Linked DNA regions of Homo sapiens: region 2 is linked to region 1. The links come from fine-mapping of genetic effects on gene expression. Tissue or cell type: nucleus accumbens. Region 1 holds a variant in brackets; the other region holds the start of a gene. All regions are shown on one strand. Distances are from middle to middle.

Evidence for each region. PIP is the estimated chance that this variant, and not a neighbour inherited with it, causes the effect.
Region 2: it holds the start of WDR35-DT, and the variant in region 1 is fine-mapped to the expression of WDR35-DT in nucleus accumbens (GTEx, PIP 0.95).

The regions. Positions count from the first base shown.
Region 1 is chr2:19,920,549-19,923,162 of GRCh38, forward strand. All of the region lies in intron 25 of WDR35 (WD repeat domain 35), which reads right to left. Among named protein-coding and RNA genes, the nearest start is that of TTC32, 20 kb to the left of the region's middle. The variant C/A (reference allele first, on the strand shown) is at 1,302.
Region 2 is chr2:19,988,968-19,991,581 of GRCh38, forward strand. WDR35-DT (WDR35 divergent transcript) reads left to right here and starts at 1,237. Exons shown (of 3, transcript NR_110235.1): 1 at 1,237-1,527. It overlaps WDR35 (WD repeat domain 35), which reads right to left and starts at 1,138. Exons shown (of 27, transcript NM_020779.4): 1 at 1,025-1,138; 2 at 198-315. The coding sequence starts at 1,048. RefSeq lists enhancers at 869-918, 935-1,438, 1,069-1,118 and a silencer at 1,279-1,358.

The DNA of each region.
Region 1 (2,614 bases):
TCAACAAACTAGGCACTGATGGAACATATCTCAAAATAATAACAGCCATTTATGACAAACCCACAGCCAATATCATACTGAATGGGCATAACCTGGAAGCATTCCCTTTGAAAACCAGCACAAGACAAGGATGCCCTCTCCCACCACTCCTATTCAACACAGTATTGGAAGTTCTGGCCAAGACAATCAGGCAGGAGAAAGAAATAAAGGATATTCAATTAGGAAAAGAGGAAGTCAAATTGTCCCTGTTTGCAGATGACATGATTGTATATTTAGAAAACTCCATCATCTCAGCCCCAAATCTCCTTAAGCTGATAAGTAACTTCAGCAAAGTCTCAGGATACAAAATCAATGTGCAAAAATCACAAGCATTCCTATACACCAAAAACAGCCAAACAGAGAGCCAAATCGTGAGTGAACTCCCATTCACAATGGCTACAAAGAGAATAAAATACCTAGGAATACAACTTACAAGGGATGTGAAGGACCTCTTCAAGGAGAACTACAAACCACTGCTCAAGAAAATAAGAGAGGACACAAACAAATGCAAAAACATTCCATGCTCATGGATAGGAAGAACCAATATCATCAAAATGGCCATACTGCCCAAAGTAATTTATAGATTCAATGCTATCCCAATCAAGCTACCATTGACTTTCTTTACAGAATTAGAAAGAACTTTAAATTTCATATGGAACCAAAAAAGAGCCCGCATAGCCAACACAATCCTAAGCAAAAAGAACAAAGCTGGAAGCATCACACTAACTGACTACGAACTATACTACAAGGCTACAGCAACAAAAACGGCACGGTACTGGTACCAAAACAGATATATAGACCAATGGAACAGAATAGAGGCCTCAGAAACAACGCCAAACATCTACAACCATCTGATCTTTGAGAAACCTGACAAAAACAAGAAATGGGGAAAGGATTCCCTATTTAATAAATGATGTTGGCAAAACTGGCTAGCCATATGCAGAAAGCTGAAACTGAATCCCTTCCTTACACCTTATACAAAAATTAACTCAAGATGGATTAAAGACTTAAACGTAAGACCTAAAACCATAAAAACCCTAGAAGAAAACCTAGGCAATACCATTCAGGACATAGGCATGGGCAAAGACTTCATAACTAAAACACCAAAAGCAGTGGCAACAAAAGCCAAAATAGAAAAATGGGATCTGATTAAACTAAAGAGCTTCTGCACAGCAAAAGAAACTATCAACAGAGTGAACTGGCAACCTACAGAAAATTTTTGCAACCTACCCATCTGACAAAGGGCTAATATCCAGAATCTA[C/A]AAAGAACTTAAACAAATTTACAAGAAAAAAACAAATAACTCCATCAAAAAGTGGGTGAAGGATATGAACAGAAACTTTTCAAAAGAAGACATTTTTGCATCCAACAAACATGAAGAAAAGCTCATCATCACTGGTCATTAGAGAAATGCAAATCAAAACCACAATGAGATACCATCTCACACCAGTTAGAATGGTGATCATTAAAAAGTCAGGAAACAACAGATGCTAGAGAGGACGTGGAGAAATAGGAATGCTTTTACACTGTTGGTGGGAGTGTAAATGAGTTCAACCATTGTGGAAGACAGTGTGGCGATTCCTCAAGGATCTAGAACTAGAAATACCATTTGACCCAGCAATCCCATTGCTGGGTATATACCCAAAGGATTATAAATCATTCTACTATAAAGACACATGCACATGTATGCTTACTGCAGCACTGTTCACAATAGCAAAGATTTGGAGCCAACCCAAATGCCCATCAATGATAGACTGGATAAAGAAAATGCAGCACATATACACCAGGGAATACTATGCAGCCATAAAAAAGGATGCATTCATGTCCTTTGGAGGGACGTGGATGAAGCTGGAAACCATCATTCTCAGCAAACTAACACAAGAACAGAAAACCAAACACCTCAGGTTCTCATTCATAAGTGGGAGTCGAACAATGAGAACACATGGACACAGGGGCAGGAGATCACACACCGGGGCCTGTAGGGGGTGGGGGGCTGGGGGAGGGATAGCATAAGGAGAAATACCTAATGTAGATGACGGGTTGATGGGTGCAGCAAACCACCAACGCATGTGTATACCTATGTAACAAACCTGCACATTCTGCACATGTACCCCAGAACTTAAAGTATAATTAAAAAAAAGTATAAATTTAGTTTCATGAATGTTGGGAACAGGCTCCACAAAATCTGGCCATAAACCAGCCCCAAAACTGGCCATAAACAAAATCTCAGCAGCACTGTGACAGGTTCATGATGGCCATAACACCCACGCTGGAAGGTTGTGGGTTTACTGGAATGAGGGCAAGGAACACCTGGCCCGCCCAGGGCAGAAAACTGCTTAAAGGAGTTCTTAAACCACAACCAGTAGCATGAGTGATCTGTGCCTTAAGGACATGCTCCTGCTGCAGATAACTAGCCAGACCCATCCCTTTATTTCAGCCCATTCCTTCATTTCTCATAAGGGATACTTTTAGTTAATCAAATATCTATAGAAACAAGGCTAATGACTGGCTTGCTGTTAATAAATACGTGGGTAAATCTCTGTTCAGGGCTCTCAGCTCTGAAGGTTGTGAGACCCC
Region 2 (2,614 bases), 68 kb after region 1:
AAAACCATCCGATGTTTACATTCAACATTCTCTGAACTTTATTGCAAATATACTCCAGAAAAACACCATAAAATGTTTTGGTAGTTTTCCCTTTAAAATAATCAGAACTGCATATTGACAGATAACATGAGTAGACCGCACTGAACAAATAACATTAGCCAATTTACTACCAAACATGTGGGCTTGCATTCATTTACCTGTCTGCGTCTCTAATTTCAAAACTTTCAGTAATCCATCTTCACCACCGCATGCTATGAACCCTTGTTCCTTGTTCCAGGATACACACTGCAGCTTCACGTTATTGGGAATGGAAATCTGAAAAAGCAACCACAGCCGCACTAGCAACTTTTCACGAAGGAGCTGGGAAGTAAGTCTGCAGGAGATGAAAGCTGAAGAAAATCTTCCAAGAAGAAAAACGAACGGCCTTGCAGAAAAAAAATGAGCTGTTGTGAAAATGGGCATGGTCCCCTGAACTGACCCGGGCTCTAGCATTTGGGAAAGAGGGAAAGAAGTGCACAAAAGAGAAGGATAGTGACTGCGGAGGAAGCCAACGCCAGAGTCTCACCGGATGGATTTTTTAAAGGGAGGACGGGGAGAGGGTATAAATCCATACCACCAGTCCCTCTTCCTTTTTACCTACAACTTAGGCTATCCTATTGTTATTTCTTTTCTCTTGCCCAATGGCTCGTGGTGATCCAAAGAGTTTAAATCACGTGGATCAGCAACAAGTGGAGGAGGAAACATAGGGTAGCACGTGGCGACTTATCCTCAAGCCACCCAAAAGGACCTAGCCAGGGGCAGGAATGGGAGAGTGCTGCGAGAGGGCAGCAAGCTCGGCCAAAGACTGAGGCTCTGGGAACCGCAGGAAGAGGTCGGAGGCTGGACCCGGCGGGAAGGATGGCTGCGGAATGGCGAAGCCACGACCAGGACCGGGTGAAGGAGCCTGGCTTCTCGGGAAGGCAGCGGGAATCGCCGCAGGCTGCGGGAATGGCGGAGAAACGAGGACGCCCCCCAGGAAACTCACTTTCTTGCTCAGGTAGAAGAACATCGTGGGATCCCCGAGAGGGTCACGGCGGCCGCTAAGGCCCTCGACAAGTAACGGTTCTACGTCTCCAATCGGGAGTACCAGCAGCTCCGGAAAGCTCCCGTCGCCCTGGCAACCGCTGTTGCCCGGTCGCATCCGGGGCGCCGCGGGACACTTCCGGTGACGCCCTCGCACCGGGCACCGGCGTAGTGCGCCTGCGCGGACGTCGATGGGTTTGTGGGCGCAGGGCGCGAGGCGCGAGGCGGTAGCTGGGCTAGTCCTGTTCCCTGGCGTCTGGGCCTTTCTGCTCTCCGCAAGGAGCTGGGTCGCGACCTGTCACTGCCAGCCGTGCGCTCGCCCTCTGCGCCCCGTCTCGTGGTCACTGCCGCCCTCCCTCCCGCCACACCTGTGATGATCGCTATGGAGCCGCGCCTCAGGTGGCATTACTATAAACCTAAGAGGAGAGGCGCCCGTTCGAATAAGGGCAAATTATTTAGTATTTTGTAAGTTCCAAAGTTCCAACATTCTTGAAAGGGAAAAGCCATTTACTGTATTTGATAGGCTGGCGCCACTGGCCAGATGAAAGTGCAAATGTGCGTACTGAGATCTTACAACCCTTCTCTGTGTCTTTGGGGATTGGAGAACCTCTAGAGCAATTTAGGAATAGAAGATTTTGTTTATTCCGCTTGTTTTGATATTTTTTAACAGTTTAATTATTACCGCAACCCCGAGGGTCCTTTTAAAGGAATTTCTGTAAACGTTGGGTAATTACAGCGTACAATTGCTATTGGGGCATGGCCTCCCATTTTACAAATATTTGAGCGTTTGGTGTTTTCTCGTCTAGAGTCGACTGTTACATATTCTCTTCTTTTTCTTACCTTCTTTCTTCATTCTCCTTTGTCCTTTTGGAATGCTTGAGAGTTACAAAGCCTCAAAGTCTAAGGCATAGGGCAGAAATCCAAGTAGAACCACTCATGAAATTATTTGGTCTCACCTATGTTTTTATTTCTGGTTTTCCCTTTTACCATAATCTAGCATGTAATTTATGCATCAGTAGTTAATTTCCCCACTTGGAGTCTTTTCCCATCTCAGACAAAAATAAAATAAAAATCCTCCAATCCTTTGACCTGGGTGATTTGTCTCACCCAGCACAATCTATTATAGAATTGACAATAGTCCCTAGTGCCTTTCCTAGCAAATCTAAACTCCATCCAAAATCAGATCTTCCCTCAATCCTAAATGTTTTTACTAGGGAGCCCCCACCTCAAGTAAGCCAATATGCTTTCTGCAGGGCAACATTCCATCCGGCTCTGCTTCCCAAGCCACTTTATATATGGTCCTACCCTCTTAACAGGCCAGTTGTGCCTAGCCAAACCAGCACAAATCAGTCTCCATGAGGAATTCTTTCCAAACTTAACCCAATCCCATTCAGATAATGTTTGCTTTCCATTGTTTGTGTGTCTGTTTAAGATACATTGGCCCCTGTCCATAGGCTCCCTATACTGGACGCATGAGACAAATTAGTATTATCTAACCCAGGAGTTTCCAATAAACTGGTCAAGACATAATTAGTTGAAGCTAGTTACTGAT